Homo sapiens: one gene and its partners. The protein of the gene in region 1 purifies or fractionates together with the protein of each later gene. This does not show direct contact. Each region holds a gene or a part of one and is shown in the gene's direction. Other genes may lie near its edges. The genes, in order: NCBP1, KPNA4, EIF3B, THOC3, LIN28A, DDX3X and UPF3B.

What was found.
Region 2: the proteins of NCBP1 (region 1) and KPNA4 purify together in Homo sapiens (co-immunoprecipitation; 3 studies listed by BioGRID and IntAct, with this or other methods). This does not show direct contact.
Region 3: the proteins of NCBP1 (region 1) and EIF3B purify together in Homo sapiens (affinity purification with western blotting; 2 studies listed by BioGRID and IntAct, with this or other methods). This does not show direct contact.
Region 4: the proteins of NCBP1 (region 1) and THOC3 purify together in Homo sapiens (affinity purification with western blotting; 2 studies listed by BioGRID, with this or other methods). This does not show direct contact.
Region 5: the proteins of NCBP1 (region 1) and LIN28A purify together in Homo sapiens (affinity purification with mass spectrometry; 3 studies listed by BioGRID and IntAct, with this or other methods). This does not show direct contact.
Region 6: the proteins of NCBP1 (region 1) and DDX3X purify together in Homo sapiens (co-immunoprecipitation; 2 studies listed by BioGRID and IntAct, with this or other methods). This does not show direct contact.
Region 7: the proteins of NCBP1 (region 1) and UPF3B purify together in Homo sapiens (affinity purification with western blotting; 2 studies listed by BioGRID and IntAct, with this or other methods). This does not show direct contact.

The regions. Positions count from the first base shown.
Region 1 is NC_000009.12:97,647,321-97,650,820, forward strand, and holds part of NCBP1 (nuclear cap-binding protein subunit 1), read left to right. Parts: intron 1-171; coding exon 172-241; intron 242-687; coding exon 688-903; intron 904-3,182; coding exon 3,183-3,280; intron 3,281-3,500. UniProt on the Homo sapiens protein: Component of the cap-binding complex (CBC), which binds cotranscriptionally to the 5'-cap of pre-mRNAs and is involved in various processes such as pre-mRNA splicing, translation regulation, nonsense-mediated mRNA decay, RNA-mediated gene silencing (RNAi) by microRNAs (miRNAs) and mRNA export.
Region 2 is NC_000003.12:160,555,572-160,559,071, reverse strand, and holds part of KPNA4 (importin subunit alpha-3), read left to right. Parts: intron 1-3,500. UniProt on the Homo sapiens protein: Functions in nuclear protein import as an adapter protein for nuclear receptor KPNB1. Binds specifically and directly to substrates containing either a simple or bipartite NLS motif.
Region 3 is NC_000007.14:2,375,327-2,378,826, forward strand, and holds part of EIF3B (eukaryotic translation initiation factor 3 subunit B), read left to right. Parts: intron 1-62; coding exon 63-201; intron 202-1,623; coding exon 1,624-1,749; intron 1,750-3,362; coding exon 3,363-3,440; intron 3,441-3,500.
Region 4 is NC_000005.10:175,962,174-175,965,315, reverse strand, and holds part of THOC3 (THO complex subunit 3), read left to right. Parts: intron 1-160; coding exon 161-365; intron 366-3,142. UniProt on the Homo sapiens protein: Component of the THO subcomplex of the TREX complex which is thought to couple mRNA transcription, processing and nuclear export, and which specifically associates with spliced mRNA and not with unspliced pre-mRNA.
Region 5 is NC_000001.11:26,424,317-26,427,816, forward strand, and holds part of LIN28A (protein lin-28 homolog A), read left to right. Parts: intron 1-986; coding exon 987-1,171; intron 1,172-1,925; coding exon 1,926-2,142; 3' UTR 2,143-3,500. UniProt on the Homo sapiens protein: RNA-binding protein that inhibits processing of pre-let-7 miRNAs and regulates translation of mRNAs that control developmental timing, pluripotency and metabolism.
Region 6 is NC_000023.11:41,344,162-41,347,467, forward strand, and holds part of DDX3X (ATP-dependent RNA helicase DDX3X), read left to right. Parts: intron 1-77; coding exon 78-238; intron 239-1,018; coding exon 1,019-1,163; intron 1,164-1,242; coding exon 1,243-1,387; intron 1,388-2,067; coding exon 2,068-2,249; intron 2,250-2,343; coding exon 2,344-2,461; intron 2,462-2,697; coding exon 2,698-2,851; intron 2,852-3,150; coding exon 3,151-3,290; intron 3,291-3,306. UniProt on the Homo sapiens protein: Multifunctional ATP-dependent RNA helicase. The ATPase activity can be stimulated by various ribo-and deoxynucleic acids indicative for a relaxed substrate specificity.
Region 7 is NC_000023.11:119,842,964-119,846,463, reverse strand, and holds part of UPF3B (regulator of nonsense transcripts 3B), read left to right. Parts: intron 1-1,167; coding exon 1,168-1,266; intron 1,267-3,162; coding exon 3,163-3,273; intron 3,274-3,500. UniProt on the Homo sapiens protein: Involved in nonsense-mediated decay (NMD) of mRNAs containing premature stop codons by associating with the nuclear exon junction complex (EJC) and serving as link between the EJC core and NMD machinery.

The DNA.
Region 1 (3,500 bases):
TTGACCTGCATCTTGATGATACACAGTACATTATCAAAACAGTTGATATCTGCCACTCCAGTAGGTAAAATGTTATTTCATTGCTTTAATTTGCATTTTAATAACTGTGAGGGTGACTGAGCATCTCTTGTTTTTAAAAGCCTAAATGTAGATTTTCATTTTTATCTTTAGAAGACGCCAAAAGACTCATGTACCCATGTTACAGGTATGGACTGCTGATAAACCACATCCACAAGAAGAGGTAAATGGATTTCAGTCCCTTGTGATACAAACACAGTCAGCTCTTGAATAGATTCTTATCTCTGTAAGATACTCAGACCATTCCATTTTACCCTTTGACTGTGTTTCTACATTTCATGATAGTTCCTTCTCATAGCTCAAGGTGTATGGTAGGTCTTTAATAGATGATAGAATGTAATTGAAATATTCCCTTGTTCTTTGGAATGCCAGCTATTACAGAGTTGACATATATTTATTTAAATGCTTAATTTGAAAAATGTCAAAACAGACAGTTCCAAACAGGTAGACTTTGTAAGTAAAATAAAAACAAAAACTTAGCACCTTTTTTTGTACCATCTTACAAGTTAGCTTACTTTTGTATCCTGTATTTTAAAGGGTAGTGATTTTTTCATTTTGTCTAGTCAAAATGTTAATTATATTAATGATTAAAAATTAATCTGTCTTTAGTATTTAGATTGCCTGTGGGCCCAGATTCAGAAATTGAAAAAGGATCGCTGGCAGGAACGGCACATCCTAAGACCTTATCTTGCCTTTGACAGCATCCTGTGTGAAGCACTGCAGCACAATCTGCCTCCTTTTACACCACCTCCTCACACTGAAGATTCAGTGTACCCAATGCCAAGGGTCATCTTCAGAATGTTTGATTACACAGATGATCCCGAGGTAAGTGACCGACTAAAAGTCCTAGATATTGACCTGTGTTGCATTGTGCTTGTGGGTTAATCCCGCTTGAATTATGCCTGTGGTATGTTTTAATTTTGAGTTGTTTTTATCTAAGAAGGTCAGTAGCAATGAAGTTAACTTTTTAATTCAGTGAATGATATCACCTCATTATGCAAGAAATTATATTTGGCATGTGTAAATAGATTACAGAGACGTGCACAGTTTGCAGGCTAAGAGTGTGGGTTTTGGGTTTTTAGAGCTACGTTGGTTTGTGTTTTAATCTTGGTTTAGCCAAATACTAGCTGTGTTAATTTGGGAAGGTTATTTACCTCCCTGTGCTTTCATTTCCTGAAGGTAATAATAATAGTATACATCTCATAATAGTAGTATATATCTCATGTTATGAGGATTAAATTATTCACATGTAAAATGCATAGAACAAGAACAGTGTCTGTCACATGATGAATGCTCAGTCATTCTGGCAATTTTTCTTTCTTATTTTTTTCTTTTCGAAATGGGGTCTTACTTTGTTGCCCAGGCTGCAGGTGAGATCTAAGCTCACTGCAACCTCTGCCTCCTGTGCTCAAGCGATCCTTCCACTTCAGCCTCCTGAGTAGCTGGGACCACAGGCATGTGTCACCTAGCCTGGCAAATTTTTTGTAGAGTTGAGATTTCGCCATGTTGCCCTGGTTGGTCTCAAACTCCTGGGCTCAAGCAATTCGTCCGCTTCGTTTTCCCAAAGTGTTGGGCTTACAGGCATGAGCCACTGCACCTGTCCATAATTATACTTAATAAGGTTATTTCTCAGTAAAAGTACCTAGTTTTAGGTATGGTCCCTCTCTAGGCAACACAGCCTGTCTTGTGATTATTCATATTGTATGATTATTTGAAAACAAATGTTGGAAGTATTTTTAATTAAAAAATTCCAAAGATTAGTCTAAGCTGACTTTATCATTTTTAATATACATGTTCTTTATTTCAAAGTCAAGTTTCCTGGCAGCCATTGTACTGTTATAATTGTATATTGTACAATTAAGAAAATTTATAATTTTCATTGTGGGTACTATCCTGTGTATTGTAAGATGCTCAGCGGTGTCCCTGATCTCTACCCTCTAAATGTCAATAGCACTCTCCCTGCCTCAGTTTTGACAACCAAAAATATCTCCAGAGAGTGCAATATGTCCCCTCAAGAGCAAAATTGCCCCCAGTTGAAAACTATTGCCATAAAAATTAATATTACCACCTAAGTCAAATTTGAGTTTCTTCTATTGTCTCTTTTCTGTTCTATGGTAAAGTGCTAATGACCAGTAGGAATTTAGTATATATGTAATCTATTTTGGAATAAAAATTTCTCAGATAATCAGTTACATATACAAAATTATCAGCTTGCTGCCGTCTTTGCTATATTCCATATGTAACCAAATACTTTAGTCAAAATTATGTAATGATCTACTTAGATATGTCTAACTGAAAATCTGGTTTACATTTAAGACTGCTAATGTTTGTGGTCGGGTATTTTTTTTTTTTTGTGCAGGGGAAACTAGAATGGGACCTCAAAATTTGTTTCTCCTGAATTTGTATTTAATTGGTATCACCTCTGTAAGGTGCATATCCATCCCTTGCTAGAAGAGTATAAATATATAAAATACATATTACTCCCAAAACGAACAGGATTTTGTTTCTGTTCTGGCCTTTTACAAGTTGTTTATTAAAAAACATTAGAAATTGTAAAAAAAAGATTAGAATCATCCAAAAGTCATTATTAAAGGTTTATTTTGTGTGTTTTGAACCTGTTTGCTATGAATATACTTAAGAATAAAATAATGCCATGTAGGGAATATGTTTTGAGCTTAGACAGTATATTATGGGCATTTTTCAATTCATGCATGACTTTTTATGGCTATGTGGTGTTTGAATAGAATTTTCTCTCTGCATAGTTATTAATGGAAATAATTCACTCTCGGTTTAAAAAATAAACTCTGTAAGACTTGTATTATCCAAAATTATTTAGTTTCATATAATAATTGGTGTGTAAAGTAGGCAGTGGTTGTATGGTTAGGTATGAGATGTGGTAGAAAAAACACTACAGCTGATACTCTGGGGTATAAGTGAACATGACAATGGAATTTCCTGAAATATAGAGCTTTAACACTTCAGAACTTTTATCCCCATCACCCAGTTTAGTGCTTGGAACATAATAGTCTCTCAAATATTTGTTGAATAAGTAAAAGAAATCTGTTTTCTAGGCCTGTAGTGTACACATTTGGTTTTCTTTCCAGGGTCCTGTCATGCCAGGGAGTCATTCAGTGGAAAGATTTGTAATAGAAGAGAATCTTCACTGCATCATTAAGTCCCACTGGAAGGAAAGGAAGACTTGGTAAGATTCTTTTCATGGTACTTTTAGAAGGGAGAGAAGCAGCAATTTTGATAATTCAGTAAGAGCAAAATATATGTTGAGAGTGTAAGAAAATTTTATCCTCCTGACTCCCTGTCTTGCTAAAATCAATTTCTAAAAACACTTGCTTTACTTTCTCAAGGCTCTTCACCCTTGTATAGTACTTTTCGAGGTGCTTTATAGTAATAAGCGTATGATGCCA
Region 2 (3,500 bases), on another chromosome or scaffold:
GTTCACAACTCAGTTGCACAAGTACTTTTTCCTTGAGACAGTCGTCCTTAAGTAGAAGTTGGTATGCAGCAGAAGTGGCTTATATGTAATCTTCATTTTTTTCACACAATTAGAAAAGGCCAATATTTAATAAAAGTAATCATTTTTTACTGTTTCCTCAAGGAATTCTTAAGTGAGCTGACTTTTAAACAAATTTTAGATGTGAAATCAGTGACAACTATTGCATCTTGATGTCATTACCTTAATTCATTCTAAAGCACCAGCAGTCTTACCCCTATGGCATCAATTCAAGTGTTAATACAATTTTTTTTTTAAAAAAAGTATTAGTATTATCATTAGGAAAATAGTTTTGACCCTGTGTACTCTCTGTAAAGGTCTCAGGACCCACATAGGGGCCCGTGGACCATGCTTTGAGTGCCACTCTTTTAGTTTACCATTGCTTCTTTTGCACATGAGTGTCACTTTTAATTAATACAGGCTCTTAAAGGACCTTATAGTATAGGGGTTAAAAGACATGGACTGTAGAGTCACTTAGGTCTGGGTTTGAACTCTGGTTTCTCCACTTAGTAATTATGGAGGCTAACTTAATTATGTCTAAGCCTTTGAAATGTTTAACAATGCCTAGCATAAAGTACATGCAGAGTAAATGGAACCTCTTACTATTTCTGCCAACTTACATAGTCATACATTGCATCCAAGTAAACCCCTATGTTCCATATCAGAATAACATTTTGCTTACAAAATTCCTCTTGTACCTCTGTGTGCCATAATCCAAACCACATCATACAAATTTGGGAAGGCTTCTTATTCCCCTTATTTAACAGTCACCTGAAAACCTACTTTCTCCCACATACTTCAGCCAAATTGTCACATACATACTAGTTTATGACTTCATTTCTTTAATCCTATGTTTTAAGTGGGTTACTAAATGCTTTATGTAGATTTTGTCACTGTTTTCTCAAAACATTGTAAATATAATCAGAAAACAACTATAATTCACACTATTTAGTACCCAGAATGAAAATGATTTAAGGTCATAGATATTTGTTGGTAATACAAGATTAAGTTGATTATTAAAGATGCTAAACTTTCCCAGGCACAGTGGCTCATGCCTGTAATCCTATTGCTTTGAGAGGCTGAGGCAGGAGGATTGCTTGATACTGGGAGTTTGAGACCATCCTAGGCAATATGGTGAGACCTTGTCTCTACAAAAAAATAAAAATAAAAAATTTAGCTGGATGTGGTGGCACACACCTGTAGTCATACCTATTTAGGAGGCTGAGGCAGGAGGATCGCTTGAGCCCAGAAAGTGGAGGCTGCAATGAACTATGACCATGCCACTGCACTCCAGCCTGGGTGACAAGAATGAGGTCTCATCTCAGATAGATAGAAATTTTTAAATGCTGACTTATTTTCTATTACTGTTTATTTACTATTCGGACAAAATTTAGTCACCTGTCATTTTTTCCCTAAATTTTTATTTACTTTAAACTTAATGTAAATTAGATTTTAACTAATGATGTATTTTGACAAACATGGAATTTCATGAATTTTTTTACTAACAAAAGTCGGAATCCTAAGATAGTATGTTTTTTACTAGTTCAGTGATGGACATATTGTCTAATATTAGAAGGTAAATCATAGTCTATCTCAGTGTCCTGTTCTTTAATAAAAACTTTAGTTTGCACATATCTACTCTTTATGTTTTTTAAAGTATGTCTTTCTGGACCCTTGAGGTAAGTGTTACATAAATTTATTTAGTTGAGTAGTTTTATCCCGAAAGACCTATGTTAAGTGGTCTCTGCTTGGTTGTATTAAATGGCCCTGTCCTGTTTGCCACCTGTTCTTCCTCTTCACACTGGCTTTTTAGCCACTTTAAGCTGTTACTGGTCCAGAAAAACAAGCAAGATAATACCTTAAGGTTTTCAAATAATTGTTAACATCACTCCTTGTTCTTTAGTAGGTGTGAAACCCAAATATTCTCCAGCTCTTTTTAAAATAGTGCAGAGGATTTGGTTCCTTGAGGCCGGGAGTTTGAGACCATCCTAGGCAGTATAGTGAGACCTCATCTCTACAAAAAATAAAAAATTTAGCTGGGTGTGGTGGCACACACCTATAGTCCTACCTATTTAGGGTAGGTTTGGTTCCTTATTTCACTTTTGAATATTATGTGGAGATGTTCATTTTACTACAGATATATCTATAGAATTGGGTTCATTGTTGATCAGCTGTTTCAGACACCTTAAATTTGTTCACGTTTTTTCTCTTAATGTTGTGAATAATTTTTCCCAATTCCCTTTTTATTCTCCAGCTTTAAAACAATGACAGTACAGGTTGAGCGTCCAAATCCAAAAATCTGAAATCCACAATGCTCCAAAATCTGAAACTTTAAGCACCTACGTGATGCTTAAAGGAAACACTCATTGGAGCATACCAGATTTTGGATTAGGGATGCTCAGTCTCTAAGTATTATGCAAACATTCTAAAATCCAAAAAAATCCAAAATCTGAAACACTTGTGTTCCCAAGCATTTCACATAAGGGATACTCAATGATGAAAAGTTTAATTAAGACCAATAAACAAATAAAAAATAGGATCCGCCTCATTAGTCATTAGGGAAACACAGCTCTAAAGCATGATGAGATACCACTTTACACCCACTAGGATGGCAGTATATAAAAAGAAAATAACAGGTGTTGGTGAGGATGTGGAGAAAGTGGAACCCTCATACATGCCTGATGGGAATGTAAAATGGTACGGCTGCTTTGGAATGCAGTTTGGCAGTTCCTCAAAAAGTTAAACAGTTAACATGTGACCCAGCAGTTCTACTAATTAGATATAAATCCAGGAGAATTGCAAACATAATGTCTGCACAAAAACTTGTAAATGAGTGTTCATAGCAGCATTATCCATAACAGCCAAAAGAGGGAAACAACTTGGCTGGGCGCAGTGGCTCACGCCTGTAATCCCAAGCACTTTGGGAGGCCAAGGCGGGCCGGATCACCTGAGGTTGGGAGTTGGGAAACCAGCACTACCAACATGGAGAAACCCCGTCTCTACTAAAAATACAAAATTAGCCAGGCATGGTGGCGCATGCCTGTGATCCCAGCTACCTGGGAGGCTGAGGCAGGAGAATCACTTGAACCCAGGAGGTGGAGGTTGCAGTGAGCTGAGATCGGGCCATTACACTCCAGCCTGGGCAACAAAAGCAAAACTCCTTCTCAAAAATAATAAATAAATATAAATAATTTAAATAAATAAAATAAAAGAAGGAAACAACCCAAATACCCATTAACTGATGAATGCACAAAGTATGGTATATGCATACAATGGAGTATTGTTCCGCTATAAAATGAAGTATAATAGTTCACCCTTATCTGCAGTTTTAGTTACCTGCAGTCAACTGTGATCAGAAACTAGGTGAATATGTGATACAACAAGATATTAATATTTAGAGAGAAAGAGATCCCACATTCACATGACTTTTCTTACAATATATT
Region 3 (3,500 bases), on another chromosome or scaffold:
GGAGTGGGATGCCAGGAGGTATGCGTCTCCATGAAGCCTGACGGTCCTGTCTGTCTTTGCAGTATGAACGGTGCCTTAGCGTTTGTGGACACTTCGGACTGCACGGTCATGAACATCGCAGAGCACTACATGGCTTCCGACGTCGAATGGGATCCTACTGGGCGCTACGTCGTCACCTCTGTGTCCTGGTGGAGCCATAAGGTGCAGGCCTGTGGGGCATAGTTTTGACTGTGGATAGAAGCAGGGAGTGCTGGCTAGCTGCTGACTCTGGTGCTGTCCTGGGACCTCAGGGAAGGGGCACCAAGCCTCTGTGTTGAACAGAAGCCTTGGCTGGTGTTAGTGGCAGGAGGAGGAGGATTCTGGGTTGTAGAAGAGGTGGCGCCGAGTGCAGGAGCAGCCCCTGCTCATGGTTGCGGGGAGGTGGGGGGTCTTACCCTGGGCCCAGGGACCCCTGAAAAGGAGTGAGAATGTCTGCAGAGAGGAGTCGTTTCCTTTGAAGTCTGAACAGAGTTCCATAACCGCAGACATTAAGATCTGTTTTGGGGTCAGTGGTTGAGTCCAGCTGCCGCGTTACCCACAACTCGTATTCCAAAACTGCTGGTTAAGTTTGTCAAGGACTTTCAGTATTTAGTGACTTGTAAAAACATTGATGGAGGCACTGATACTTGAACTAGTCCATGCCAATAGAGCCTGTGAAACCAAACGCGGGTAATTTTGTTTAATGAGATACAGAATTTGTAGGAATATCAACTTCCCAAATGTTACTGCAAGTGTCTAGAGTTAGAAATCTTCGCATTCGAATCAGGATATGTTGATCACAGCCTGTGTCCAGGTATGTTCAGATGTCACTGCGGTGGGGCCTGCCTTGACACTTGAAATCACTTTAGGCCAGGCACAGTGGCTCACACCTGTAATCCCAGCACTTCAGGAGGCAGAGGTAGAAAAATCACTTGAACCCAGGAGTTTGAGACTAGCCTGAGCAACATAGCGAAACCCTAGCCCCATTAAAAAAAAAAAAAAAAAAAAGACTTTTTAAGCTGTTGACCACTCTCCTTGAGTTATGAACACTTAGCTTCCAAAATGCCGGCCTGCAACAAGGAGTTTATGCTGAGTGCCAGTGAAGGCGCCCTCCTTCATGAGAGAGGCCTGCCATGAGGAGAGCGGAACTAGGCGGCGTGTAGTGATGCAGTTAGCTTACATCCAGCACAGGGCTCCGCACAGCTCACACCCGGCCCAGGGCTCAGCAGTGAGTAGTGCTATGCAGTTAGCTTACGTTTGGCACAGGGTTCAGTCCAGTTTAAATCCAGCACGGGGTTCAGCGGCGCAGTAGTGAGGCAGTTAGCTTACATCCAGCATGGGGTTCTTATTGCCAGCCAGAATGTGCAGGCCTGTGCTGTGATGAGCGCTGCTCCAGCTGCTCCGTGCCCCGCACTCCGGGTCGGTTGCATAATGGAGGTGTCTTGCATTGACTGCCCACCTACCCTGCTGTCAGCTCAGCACAGGCAGAGCTTTGTTTGCTTCACACGTGTCCCCGATACCCAGGACCTTGTTCAGCAAGTGACATAGTCACGGTTGTGGCTCTCTGACCCCTCTGTGTCCTGGTGTGTCCCTGCCCTGGCCTAGGTGGACAACGCGTACTGGCTGTGGACTTTCCAGGGACGCCTCCTGCAGAAGAACAACAAGGACCGCTTCTGCCAGCTGCTGTGGCGGCCCCGGCCTCCCACACTCCTGAGCCAGGAACAGATCAAGGTCAGCATGCCCCCACCCCCGGGTGCAGGGCACATGGAGGCAATTGTGGCGTTGAAAAGGTGTCAGTTTTTTCTGTTATTGTTAGGGTGGTGACTGGGGGATAAAAACGTGACATTTGCAAGGATTCTTTGAAGAGACGCAGGAACAGTGAGAACTGAATGGAATAGAACAGCTTTAGGATAGTAACTTGAGGCTTTCAGCTTCTTTAGGGAAGTTTTGCATGAACCCGAGGGGTGGATAAAAAGATGCCAGGGCCATTAAAAAGTCCTGCTGGGATTAGAAGCGGCTTGTCTGGGATTTACATTATTGTGGTAAAATAGGCCGTTGGTCTTAGGTCAGAGCAAAGAGGAGGGTTAAATCCCAGGGAGAAAGTCCGTCTCAAAGTGAAAGATGGAGGAAGGAGCAGGCACGAGCGCTCCTGGGATGCTGTGTTGTGTGAATGACCCTGGGTGTCAAGGAGGAAGGAGCAGGCACGAGCGCTCCTGGGATGCTGTGTTCTGTGAATGACCCTGGGTGTCATGGAGGAAGGAGCAGGCGCGAGCTCTCCTGGGAATCCGTGTTCTGTGAATGACCCTGGGTGTCAAGGAGGAAGGAGCAGGCGCGAGCGCTCCTGGGATGCTGTGTTCTGTGAATGACCCTGGGTGTCATGGAGGAAGGAGCAGGCGCGAGCGCTCCTGGGATGCTGTGTTCTGTGAATGACCCTGGGTGTCATGGAGGAAGGAGCAGGCGCGAGCTCTCCTGGGAATCCGTGTTCTGTGAATGACCCTGGGTGTCAAGGAGGAAGGAGCAGGCGCGAGCGCTCCTGGGAAGCCGTGTTGTGTGAATGACCCTGGGTGTCGAGGAAGGAGAAGGCGCGAGCACTGCTGGGATGCCGTGTTCTGTGAATGACCCTGGGTGTCATGGAGGAAGGAGCAGGCGCGAGCTCTCCTGGGATGCTGTGTTCTGTGAATGACCCTGGGTGTCATGGAGGAAGGAGCAGGCACGAGCGCTCCTGGGATGCTGTGTTCTGTGAATGACCCTGGGTGTCATGGAGGAAGGAGCAGGCGCGAGCTCTCCTGGGAATCCGTGTTCTGTGAATGACCCTGGGTGTCAAGGAGGAAGGAGCAGGCGCGAGCGCTCCTGGGAAGCCGTGTTGTGTGAATGACCCTGGGTGTCGAGGAAGGAGAAGGCGCGAGCACTGCTGGGATGCTGTGTTGTGTGAATGACCCTCGGTGTCATGGAGGAAGGAACAGGCGAGCGTTCCTGGGATGCTGTGTTGTGTGAATGACCCTTGGTGTCATGGAGGAAGGAACAGGCGAGCGCTCCTGGGATGCTGTGTTGTGTGAATGACCCTGGGTGTCATGGAGGAAGGAGCAGGCGCGAGCGCTCCTGGGAAGCTGTGTTGTGTGAATGACCCTGGGTGTCATGGAGGAAGGAGCAGGCGCGAGTGCTGCTGGGAAGCTGTGTTGTGTGAATGACCCTGGGTGTCATGGAGAAAGGAGCATGCGAGCGCTCCTGGGAAGCTGTGTTCTGTGAATGGCTTTGGGTGTCATGTCATGTTGGCAACTCTGAAGATTGCATTTGTGCTTGTTGCTTTGAATGTTAAATCCTGAGTGATGGGTCTTTTGTTTCAGCAAATTAAAAAGGATCTGAAGAAATACTCTAAGATCTTTGAACAGAAGGATCGTTTGAGTCAGTCCAAAGCCTCAAAGGTGAGCCTCATTCCCAAAATGAGGGCTGTGCTGTGACATCCGCCATCATGGCAAAGGCGG
Region 4 (3,142 bases), on another chromosome or scaffold:
ACTTATTGTTGAATCATAAGTGGTAGCTCCCTTCCATTGTCTAGGACTTTAATGAGTAAGCCCGGAAGAAAGCTCTGGTCTTCTTTCTAGGATAGTGCAATAAACTTGTGGAAGATTATGAGCAAACAGATTATCTTGCTGATTATGTCTGGGTTCCCAGGGGAGAACATTAATATCTGCTGGAGTCCTGATGGGCAGACCATTGCTGTAGGCAACAAGGATGATGTGGTGACCTTTATTGATGCCAAGACACACCGTTCCAAAGCAGAAGAGCAGTTCAAGTTCGAGGTCAACGAAATCTCCTGGAACAATGACAATAATATGTTCTTCCTGACAAATGGCAATGGTTGTATCAACATCCTCAGGTGAGGGGGTCTAGCTTAGGGGACTGTCATGTCTTTGTGCTGGGTGCTGTGTCAGATATGGAGATGAATTAGATGTGAGCCTATCCTGAAGGAGCTTAAAACACAAATAGTAAGAGAGAATCCTAACCTGTCTTAAGTACATTTGAGCTGTATATTTTATATACTTTATATTTTACTGAGTCCTTACAGAAATTCTAGGGGTTGATGATTTGCTTCTCATTTGACAGATGAGGATCTGAGGGTGAGAGGTTACATCAGTAGTCAGCTAGTGTGTGCTAGAACTGGATGCACCTTGAATTATGGCTAATTCGTACTCCCTTTTTTTTTGTTTTTCGAGACAGAGTTTTGCTCTTGTTGCCCAGGCTGCAGTGCAATGGTGTGATCTTGGCTCACCGCAACCTCTGCCTCCGAGGTTAAGCGATTCTCCTGCCTCAGCCTCCCAAGTAGCTGGGATTAGAGGCATGTGCCACCACACCTGGCTAATTTTGTATTTTTTGTAGTTTAGGGTTTCTCCATGTTGGTCAGGCTGGTCTCCAACTCCCGACCTCAGGTGATTAGCCCGACCTCTGGCTAATTCGTACTCTTAAAGTTTCAACTGAAATATCACTTTGCCTTCAGGGAAGCTCCCCCGCTACCCCAAGGTTAGAGGTAGGTTAGAGGCGTATTTTATATACTTTCTGTAGGAAGCACTTTTCTTTCTATATTGTAATTGCATGTTTATTTGCCTGTGTCTCCTGTTAGACTGTGAATTCCTTGATGGTAGGGATGGTGTTTGCCTTGTTTAGTGTTGAGTCCCTAATGTCTAGTCCTGTACCTGCTCCACGTAGTAGGATCTTAGTAAATATTTGTTCTGTAAATGAATGAAACTGTGGAGCTGAAATTCAGGTCTGTTCAATTCTAGCCTTCCACTATCCCAGGTGAACAATGCAAGACCAAGTGAGATAGGTTCTGTGAGTGGGAGGCCAGGAGTTTGCTGTGAAATTCCACGGAAAGAACAGACATACTATATGGGGGGTTGAAGGAGGGAGCTTGTGAGCTTGATCTTGAAAGATGAGCAGAATTTTAAGAATAAGCAAAAGGGAACCACATAACTGACAAAGCAGGTGTGAGTGAGCATGACTTACTTGGAGAGTGGTTAGGTCAGGGTTGTTGGGGGAGTGGTGGCAGATAAGGGAAATAAGAGAGGGCATGATAATGGGAAGATGAAGTCTAATTTGGGACCAGATTATAAAAGGCCTTTATTTTATGCTTAGTATCTTGGGTTTTATTTTGTAGGCAATGGGGATTCTATAACTTTTTAAGAAAAATCTTTTTATTATAAAACACAGATATTGAAAACCACATAAAATAAATGTATAGCTTAATGAACTCTTATAGGCTTAACTCTTGTGCAACCCCGCCCAAGTTGAGAAGTAGTTCTTTCCAGCCATCCCAGAAGTCCATCCAGGTGATTTGTCCTAATTACAACTTCCTTCCACAAAAGCAAACACTATCCTGACTTTTATAGTGTTTCTTCATAGTTTATCTACCACATGTGCAGCCCCTAGATACCCTAGTTTTGCTCATTAAAAAAAAAAAAAATTGATATGTCTTTTGTATCTCTTAAATTACTCAAAAGAAACTTCCGAAAACGTAGCTGTTGAAAAACCAGACTGTTAACCTGTGGAGATTCTCCCAGTTTGGCTTTTGCTGATTCCATATGCTGTTTATGTGTTGGACTGTTGTGTAAAGAGATGCTGCTTCTCATCTGCGATTTGGTTACCCAGTAGTGTAGTTCATGTAGGGAAGGCAGGATAAAATTTTGATTCTGTTTGTCAGATAATGATTTTGTTTCCTGCTACCTCCAAAGATGAGCAGTTAGGTGTTTTTTTTTTAAAGAATCATTACGGGCTGATGTTTTTAAACATAGTTGGTGTGTTTCCATCTCTTGTAATTGTTACGCCTGTTGAAGCTCAAATTATCCCATCTTTGGCCAATAAGAACCTCTTCAAGTTGGTTCCTGAGACCTTTTTTGACATAATCCCATCGTCTTCTGTTTTTTTGCTCTCTGGTTTGATAAGATGTTCCAAGTTCATCTTGTGCATTTCTTGCCCCAGACCTTTAATCAGAACATTCTCCAAGAAGCCTTAACATTCTGGCTGGGTGCGGTGGCTCACGCCTGTAATCCCAGCACTTTGGCACTTTGGGAGGCCGAGGCGAGTGGATCACTTGAGACCTGGCAATCATAGAGAAACCCTGTCTCTACTCAAAATACAAAAATTATCTGGGCGTGGTGACGCACGTGTATATTCCCAGCTGCTTGGCAGACTGAGGCAGGAGAATCGCTTGAACCCGGGAGGCGGAGGTTGTAGTAAGTTTAGATTGCACCACTGCACTCCAGCATTCTGGACGACTGAGTGAGATTCCACCTCAAAAAAAAAAAAAAAAAAGGAGCCTTACATTCTTTTACTGAGAAATGATACTGAAGTTAGGAATGTTCATTACTGCTGGGTTGGCCTAGGAATTACGTGTGTGTGTGTGTGTGTGTGTATATATATATATATTTAAAGATAAAATACCTTATGAATTCATGTTGATAACTTGCAATCAAAATTGAGGACTCCAGGGATTTTACTAAACCTCTTCTATATTACAAATATATTTCTTTCCTCCCAAATTGAGTATTCTGGTTCTCAAGGGCACAGGGGATCATAGAATTAGAATATCCGATGGTTACTTATTACCTATCTCCCATGGTAAACATATAGATGTCTCAGAACAACAATATTACTGCTGCT
Region 5 (3,500 bases), on another chromosome or scaffold:
CTGAAACCTCTGCCTCCGGGGTTCAAGCAACTCTCCTGCCCCAACTGCCCAAGTAGCTGGGATTACAGGCGCCCACCACCACACCCGGCTAATTTTTGTATTTTTAGTAGAGACAGGGTTTCACCATGTTGGCCAGGCTGGTCTCGAACTCTGGACCTCGTGATCCACCTGCTTCAGCCTCCCAAAGTGCTGGGGTTAAAGGCGTAAGCCACCGTGTGTGGCTGAGCCACCATGCCCAGCTATTTTTACTTTTATTTTATTTATTTATTTTTGAGACGAAGTCTTGCTGTGTTGCCCAGGCTGGAGTGCAAAGGCGCCATCTTGGCTCACTGCAACCTCTATAGTGTGACACTTTAAATTTCGTAATTTTATATTTGTTGATTTCTTCCAAATGCTTGTATTTACAAATTTTTCTGTTTGTTGTTGTTTGTTTGTTTGTTTTTGAGACAAAGTCTCACTCTGTCGCCCAGGCTGGAGTGCAATAGTGTGATCTCAGCTCACTGCAACCTTTGCTTCCTGGGTTCAAGCAATTCTCCTGCCTCAGTCTCCCAAGTAGCTGGGATTACAGGTGCCCGCCACCACGCCCAGCTAATTTTTTTTATTTTTAGTAGAGACAGAGTTTCACCATGTTGGCCAAGCTGGTCTCGAACTCCTGACTTCAGGTGATCCTCCCGCCTCAGCCTCTCAAAGTGCTAGGATTATAGGTGTGAGCCACCGTACCCGGCCCTCTGTTCTATTTTATTAAGAACTTTAAACCTGAATAGCTACAAAAATGTCATGGCATCTGCTTATATAATTACGATTTTTGTTAATGTACTGGTAGACTTTGTTGTTCTTAATCGTAGTGACTCTTTGAGTCAGTTTCCTTACCAGTAAAATAGGAGTACCATCACATTTGATTCCTACCCTACAGGAATAAGAGTTCCTTGTCTTTTGGTATAATAATGGAAATTAATGTTAAAATTTACTGCATTTCCCTTCACCAGAGTAAGCTGCACATGGAAGGGTTCCGGAGCTTGAAGGAGGGTGAGGCAGTGGAGTTCACCTTTAAGAAGTCAGCCAAGGGTCTGGAATCCATCCGTGTCACCGGACCTGGTGGAGTATTCTGTATTGGGAGTGAGAGGCGGCCAAAAGGAAAGAGCATGCAGAAGCGCAGATCAAAAGGAGACAGGTATGGATTGGAAGGCAGCTTATATAGGTTGCTAAGGGCATCCCCAGTCTCCCAATCCTGTCACTTTTTGGGTCACACTGCAAAAGACAAAGGGAAGCCTGTGGTCCCTGGCAGCATCTGGAAGGCTGAGCGCCTGCAATAGGTGTGGGCAAGGGCAGTAGGTGAGGAGGCCACTGGGGGTGACTTAGTGCTACTTGGGACAAGTAAGTTTGCTCTGTGGTCTCTAAGCCTCAATTGTTAAGTGAGGCAGTGATACTAACATCCTAGGATGGTTTTAGAATTAAAGGAGATCATAGATTTGCAAATGGTGGGACAAGACAGTATTATCTATATCTGTTGCTGCTTTACCAGGTCTGCAAATGGCTGGTTTCCTTAATCTTGCTTGGGCTTAAAGCCCCTTAGCTCTGAACAGATACTATAATTTGGCTTCTTTAATTTCTCCTATATTAAGGGTATGGAAGAATCTCTCCTATCCCCCAAGTTGCAGTTCCTAGTTGGGGTCAGTAACTTATATTTCTGGTATCTTGGTATTTTCAAGTTGACATGAATCTGAAGAGATCACCTAGACAATTAGATGTGGAAAGGACTTAGAGATCATTTAGTAATAGTCCTCCTTTTGCAAGTGGGAAGTTTGGTCTCTGGGAAGGGAAGTAAGTGACAAACCTGTACCAGAGCCCAGGTGTCCTCATTCGTGGGAGGCATCTGGCCTCTTCTTGCTCCTTTCTCTTACTTTTACGATCTTGCTTTGTACTAGGTGCTACAACTGTGGAGGTCTAGATCATCATGCCAAGGAATGCAAGCTGCCACCCCAGCCCAAGAAGTGCCACTTCTGCCAGAGCATCAGCCATATGGTAGCCTCATGTCCGCTGAAGGCCCAGCAGGGCCCTAGTGCACAGGGAAAGCCAACCTACTTTCGAGAGGAAGAAGAAGAAATCCACAGCCCTACCCTGCTCCCGGAGGCACAGAATTGAGCCACAATGGGTGGGGGCTATTCTTTTGCTATCAGGAAGTTTTGAGGAGCAGGCAGAGTGGAGAAAGTGGGAATAGGGTGCATTGGGGCTAGTTGGCACTGCCATGTATCTCAGGCTTGGGTTCACACCATCACCCTTTCTTCCCTCTAGGTGGGGGGAAAGGGTGAGTCAAAGGAACTCCAACCATGCTCTGTCCAAATGCAAGTGAGGGTTCTGGGGGCAACCAGGAGGGGGGAATCACCCTACAACCTGCATACTTTGAGTCTCCATCCCCAGAATTTCCAGCTTTTGAAAGTGGCCTGGATAGGGAAGTTGTTTTCCTTTTAAAGAAGGATATATAATAATTCCCATGCCAGAGTGAAATGATTAAGTATAAGACCAGATTCATGGAGCCAAGCCACTACATTCTGTGGAAGGAGATCTCTCAGGAGTAAGCATTGTTTTTTTTTCACATCTTGTATCCTCATACCCACTTTTGGGATAGGGTGCTGGCAGCTGTCCCAAGCAATGGGTAATGATGATGGCAAAAAGGGTGTTTGGGGGAACAGCTGCAGACCTGCTGCTCTATGCTCACCCCCGCCCCATTCTGGGCCAATGTGATTTTATTTATTTGCTCCCTTGGATACTGCACCTTGGGTCCCACTTTCTCCAGGATGCCAACTGCACTAGCTGTGTGCGAATGACGTATCTTGTGCATTTTAACTTTTTTTCCTTAATATAAATATTCTGGTTTTGTATTTTTGTATATTTTAATCTAAGGCCCTCATTTCCTGCACTGTGTTCTCAGGTACATGAGCAATCTCAGGGATAGCCAGCAGCAGCTCCAGGTCTGCGCAGCAGGAATTACTTTTTGTTGTTTTTGCCACCGTGGAGAGCAACTATTTGGAGTGCACAGCCTATTGAACTACCTCATTTTTGCCAATAAGAGCTGGCTTTTCTGCCATAGTGTCCTCTTGAAACCCCCTCTGCCTTGAAAATGTTTTATGGGAGACTAGGTTTTAACTGGGTGGCCCCATGACTTGATTGCCTTCTACTGGAAGATTGGGAATTAGTCTAAACAGGAAATGGTGGTACACAGAGGCTAGGAGAGGCTGGGCCCGGTGAAAAGGCCAGAGAGCAAGCCAAGATTAGGTGAGGGTTGTCTAATCCTATGGCACAGGACGTGCTTTACATCTCCAGATCTGTTCTTCACCAGATTAGGTTAGGCCTACCATGTGCCACAGGGTGTGTGTGTGTTTGTAAAACTAGAGTTGCTAAGGATAAGTTTAAAGACCAATACCCCTGTACTTAATCCTGTGCTGTCGAGGGATGGATATATGAAGTAAGGTGAGATCCTTAACCTTTCAAAATTTTCGGGT
Region 6 (3,306 bases), on another chromosome or scaffold:
CATTGATTCTAATTAAATGTTTTATGAACATGTAAAAATTTTGACCTTGAAGTTCATAACATTTTTTTTGCTTATAGTTTTCATACCGATCTAGAGTTCGTCCTTGCGTGGTTTATGGTGGTGCCGATATTGGTCAGCAGATTCGAGACTTGGAACGTGGATGCCATTTGTTAGTAGCCACTCCAGGACGTCTAGTGGATATGATGGAAAGAGGAAAGATTGGATTAGACTTTTGCAAGTATGTTTTATTTTGTTTTTGTTTTTTTGTTTTGTTTTGTTTTGTTCTTTTGTTTTTGGCAGAGTTGCGCTCTTGTTGCCCAGGCTGGAGTGCCATGGCGCGATCTCGGCTCACCACAACCTCTGCCTCCCGGGTTCAAGCGATTCTCCTGCCTCAGCCTCCCAGGTAGCTGGGATTACAGGCATGTGCCACCACGCTGGGCTAATTTTTGTATTTTTAGTAGAGGCGGGGTTTCTCCATGTTGGTCAGGCTGGTCTCGAACTCCTGACCTCAGGTGATCCGCCTGCCTTGGCCTCCCAAAGTGCTGGGATTACAGGTGTGAGCCATCGCACCCGGCCAAGTATGTTAATTTTTAAATGTATGGGATGCAGTATTAAAGTTACTGCCCATTAGTTTTGTGGTGATGTTAACATTGTCTAAATGTTAAGGCTGAGAAGTGATGTATTTCAGACATCTAACTTTCACAAAAAGCTTGTTCATGGTAATTTTAATGTTGAAAAATCAGTAACATCTTGGTTGAGACTTACAACAATGATCAGCTCGTGGGACAGTCAACTAGGATGGGCTAATTTGACTGTGTAATCTTGAATGACTTATGTAGTGGCAAGAATCCTGTGCTGTGTCTGTAAAATTATGCAGTGTGAGGCACCATCTTAATGAATATATAATTGTAATAACCTATACAATTGTATTTGTAATTATACTAACAGCCATACTAAAACCATGTTGATTTCTCCTCAAATTCTAAACTCAGGCTTGTTTTTTTTCATGACATGACAGATACTTGGTGTTAGATGAAGCTGATCGGATGTTGGATATGGGGTTTGAGCCTCAGATTCGTAGAATAGTCGAACAAGATACTATGCCTCCAAAGGGTGTCCGCCACACTATGATGTTTAGTGCTACTTTTCCTAAGGAAATACAGGTACTGTTTGATGTTGCAAATTTTATTTATTTAGAAATTTGTTTATCTCAGGTAATAATAAAAATTTTTTTTCTTTCAGATGCTGGCTCGTGATTTCTTAGATGAATATATCTTCTTGGCTGTAGGAAGAGTTGGCTCTACCTCTGAAAACATCACACAGAAAGTAGTTTGGGTGGAAGAATCAGACAAACGGTCATTTCTGCTTGACCTCCTAAATGCAACAGGTAACATTATGAATTTTTTATTTTATTAGACATGGGGGTTTCTCTTTGTTGCCCAGGCTGGAGTGCAGGGGTTATTCACAGGTGTGATCTCATTACTGATCAGCATGGGAGTATTTGACCTGCTCTGTTTCTGACCTGGGCCTGTTCACCCCTCCTTAGGCAACCTGGTGCTCCCTTGCTTCCGGGAGGTTACCATGTTGATGCCAAACTTAGTGTGGACACCTGATAGGCATAGTACACTACAGCCCAGAACTCCTAGACTTAGACAATCCTCCTGCCTCAGTCTCCAGAGTAGCTGGGACTACAGGCACTCACCACTGCACCCAGCTAAAATTATGAATAATTTAATTGCTCTGGTAATAACCCATTTGGGCTGGGTGCAGTGGTACAGTGCATGTAGTCCCAGCTACTTGGCAGGCTGAGGCTGTAGTATGCCATGATTGCACCTGCGAATGGCCAGTGCACTCTCAGCCTGGGCAATTTAGTGAGACCCCCATCTCTTAAATGTATTTGGATTACCTTTATTACTTTTCCTCCTCAATTCAAAACATGCTGTGTTGAAAGCCCGTTTTTAAGAAGATATATATGTATTTTAATTGACACATTAAAATTGTGCATACATAAGTGCAAAGAGAACTAAGCCATGTTAGTGACAAAAACCTATAATTTTTCAACGACAGGCAAGGATTCACTGACCTTAGTGTTTGTGGAGACCAAAAAGGGTGCAGATTCTCTGGAGGATTTCTTATACCATGAAGGATACGCATGTACCAGCATCCATGGAGACCGTTCTCAGAGGGATAGAGAAGAGGCCCTTCACCAGTTCCGCTCAGGAAAAAGCCCAATTTTAGTGGCTACAGCAGTATGTATAAACATCTTTCTTTTATTCAAATTGAGCATGTTCAAGTATTTGTTTTCTTTTAAGTGGGCCATATCTCATAAAAGTTATTTTCCAGGTAGCAGCAAGAGGACTGGACATTTCAAATGTGAAACATGTTATCAATTTTGACTTGCCAAGTGATATTGAAGAATATGTACATCGTATTGGTCGTACGGGACGTGTAGGAAACCTTGGTAAGTATTTGATTACTTGATGGTTTCATTGTTTTTTGCTGTGATGTGTGCAGGAAAGAACTTGCTAGGATCTAAAATACATTTTTAACAATGAAAGTGACAAAGATTTTGCTCAAAGCACTTGTTTAAATATTACGTGGTAATATTTTAAATATTTCTACGTAGGAAAGTAAGAATAGTAGCAAGTTACTTTATGGAAGACCTTTGTTTATATACTTTTTTGGGAACTCTTTTAGGCCTGGCAACCTCATTCTTTAACGAGAGGAACATAAATATTACTAAGGATTTGTTGGATCTTCTTGTTGAAGCTAAACAAGAAGTGCCGTCTTGGTTAGAAAACATGGCTTATGAACACCACTACAAGGGTAGCAGTCGTGGACGTTCTAAGAGGTGAGGTATAAATAGTATATAATGAGGGGAATGGGTGTTCACTTACAGTTCATAGTGTTTCCTCTGCATGCATAACGTCCAAGGTTAACTGTACAGTATTTAAAAAGCTTAATCATCTTAGGCTTCCTAGATTCTTTGGTAAGGGGTTGTATTAGAATGGGTGACACTCTGTTGGGGAAAATATGGCTGGATGGGGAATTGTTTGAATGGAAAAATTAGAAATTGGTCATTAGGAAAGAGTTAGGTTACTTTAGTGGAATTTCATCTTCATGTGAACCAACATAATTTTTTTCTTATAGTAGCAGATTTAGTGGAGGGTTTGGTGCCAGAGACTACCGACAAAGTAGCGGTGCCAGCAGTTCCAGCTTCAGCAGCAGCCGCGCAAGCAGCAGCCGCAGTGGCGGAGGTGGCCACGGTAGCAGCAGAGGATTTGGTGGAGGTAGTGTTAATCTGTA
Region 7 (3,500 bases), on another chromosome or scaffold:
CTCCGCCTCCCAGGTTCAAGTGATTCTCCTGCCTCAGTCTCCCAAGTAGCTGGGATTACAGGCGTGCACTATCACGCCTGGCTAATTTTTGTATTTTTATTTATTTTTATTTTTATGTATTTATTTTTTTGAGACGGAGTCTTACTCTGTCGCCCAGGCTGGAGTGCAGTGGCATGATCTCGGCTCACTGCAATCTCTGCCTCCTGGGTTCAAGTGATTCTCATGCCTCAGCCTCCAGAGTAGCTGGGATTGCAGGCACGTGCCACCACGCCCAGCTAATTTTTGTATTTTTAGTAGAGACAGTGTTTCACCATGTTGGCCAGGCAGGTCTCAAACTTCTGACCTCAGGTGATCCTCTCATCTCGGCCTCCCAAAATGCTGGGATTATAGGCATAAGCCACGGTGCCCAGCCCAACGTGATAATTTTATATATGTATACATTATGAAATGTATACATTATGAAATGTATACATATTGTATACATATATACATTATGAAATGTATACATAATGTATACATATATACATTATGAAATATATACAATCAAGTTAACACATTCATCACCTCACATAACACATCACCTCAAATAGTTACACTTTTAAAAAATAACAGCTTTATTGAGATATAATTCACATGCCTGAAATAGTCACCCTTTTAAAGTATACAGTTCAGTGAATTTTAGTATATTCATAGGCTTATGAGCCTATCACCACAATCTAAATTTAGAACATGTTCATCACCCCTAAGAGAAACCCCACCCATTAGTTGTCACTCCTCATTCTTCTCACCACTTCTACCCCAAACTCCAGGCAGCTACTACTCTACGTTCTGTCTCTATAGATTTGCCTATTTTGGAGATTTCTAACATTTTAAAATGAAAAATAGTTTGTAGGGTCTTTTTCACATTAAAATATCACATTTTATAAGTTGAATTTATATGAATATTTTACTTTCATGCCGTGTTGTTTCACTATGTTATCAGTGTGAATTTGTGGCTCCTTTTGTAGTATGTTGATTATGGTTGTGCCAGTGTGCTTTATGCCTTTGGGAGACCCTCTTCAGATGACTGCCATCAAAAGAGTCATAGAAAGCAATGGGTTGATTCCCTTATATCCACTTTTGACATTTTCTTTGTTATAGCAAGTGTGGTATTTTTTTTCTAAACAGGTCAGGAATATCCCGCTATAGTAGAATTTGCACCTTTTCAAAAAGCTGCAAAAAAGAAGACTAAGAAAAGAGATACCAAAGTCGGGACTATCGATGATGGTACAGTATAGCTCTAATTATATAATGCTATTGCTGTGGGGTTTTTAAAAATAATATCTTTGTGAGAGTTAATTCGACCCCAAAATTTTAAATTAGAAAATATACAAAATAAAGTAAGTGAGAAATGTTATTTGCCGATGGAAGCTTTGCTTAATTGTTAGACTAGAGAGAGTTTCTTGCACAGAATCTCTGCTCTCTTTGGCTAGGGCATTTCATTCTTCAACCATTGAACAATATAATGTTGACTATTGAGTAACAAATCACCATAGGTTTATTGATTAGAAGATAGTGGAAAGGCCAGGCGTGGTGGCTCACGCCTATAATCCCAGTACTTTGGGAGGCCAAGGCGGGCGGATCATCTGAGGTCAGGAGTTTGATACCAGCCTGACCAACATGGAGAAACCCTGTCTCTACTAAAAATATAAAATTAGCCGGGTATGGTGGTGCATGCCTGTAATCCCAGCTATTCGGGAGGCTGAGGCAGGAGAATCTCTTGAACCCAGGAGGCGGAGGTTGCAGTGAGCTGAGATCACACCATTGCACTCCAGCCTGGGCAACAAGAGCGAAACTCCATCTCAAAAAAAAAAGAAAAAGAAAATAGTGGAAAAAAATCAGGTTTCAAAGTTTAACAGGTGCTTCTTGAGGCCTCACCATTTTTATGATTATTTATTTGACTTTTGGTTTCCATTATATTTATAAAGAAGAAGGTTTGAACTGTCATGGGAAAATTTCCATACCCAGGTAACTTTGTATAAAGTAGCTGAAGTTGTCACTCCTATTTTCTGGTCTTTGGATATACAATTAGCTACACACATAGTATTAGGTTGAACAGGAATAGAAGAACTGAGGCCAGGCGCGGTGGCTCACTCCTATAATCCCAGCACTTTGGGAGGCCAAGGCGGGCAGAGTTGCTGAGGTCAGGAGTTCGAGACCAGCCTGGCCAACATGGTGACACCCCATCTCTACTAAAAACACAAAAATTAGCTAGGCATGGTGGCGGGCACCTGTAATCCCAGCTGCTTGGGAAGCTGAGGCAGAAGAATCACTTGAACCCGGGAGGCGGAGGTTGCAGTGAGCTGAGACCGCACCATTGCACTCCAGCCTGGACAACAAAAGCAAAACTCCGTCTCAAAAAAAAAGAAAGAAAGAAAGAAATACAAGAACTGAAAAACCAAAATAATTGCCATTTAAGGTACACTGGCTCCAGATTTTGAGACCTCTGTAATGTTATGTTAGATAGCTGTTACACAACTCTTTATGTTGGATAAGGACTAGGACCATATTTTATATCAGATTGTTACTTTAGAATCATCTAGTTTAATTTCCATCATTTGTTACTATTACAGGTATTTTATAAAGAAAACACGGTAAGGACTCAATAACACATAGCTGTGATACTGGTTTTATTACAGATTTAGATCTGGAAGACTTGATCAAGTGACACATAGAAACAAGCAATATAATGGCTTAGATGTGTCACCCTTTCTGATGTTAGAGGTCTAGGAGAGAACTCCAGGAATTCCCATCACCTCAAGTGCCACATCTAGGACTTCTCTCTAATTTATCTTTTTGGAACACCTAACTTAGTTTAGTAGGACAGTGACTTTTAAAAGCAAACTATGTAATACCCCTAGTGGTTCTGTTATAATGCATGGCGTCTCATTTTTCCTGACCCCATGTTATACCAGATTCCTATAGTGAGTATCAGTGATAGGAGTCCTGAGAGCAAGTGACCAATTAAGCTCTAAATAGTCTACCTTGTGGGTATGGTTTGGTTTTTTTTAATCTTCCACGAAGTAAAAAATTATCTTCTTTGATAAATCAGTATTGTAGATAATGTCTTCTTTTTTTGTTTAAAGTCTATTATATTTTCTGTTTCCTCAAATGATTATTTAGATCCAGAATATAGAAAGTTTTTGGAAAGTTATGCCACAGATAATGAGAAAATGACATCTACTCCAGAGACACTGCTAGAGGAAATAGAAGCAAAAAATAGAGAATTAATAGGTAAGTGGGCAAAAAGAATCAGGGCAACAGTCTTTTCATCACAGTACCTAAGTCTCCTACCTCCATCAGTTGCTAGCTGTGTGACTTCAGGGAAGTTACTAGTTTCTCTGAGACTGTTACTGTAAATTGCAGATGGTAATACCTGCCTCACAGCATTATGAGAATCCATTAAAGTGGGAAAAATTCTTTGACCTATTTAGTTTCACACAAATGTAATATAAATACAA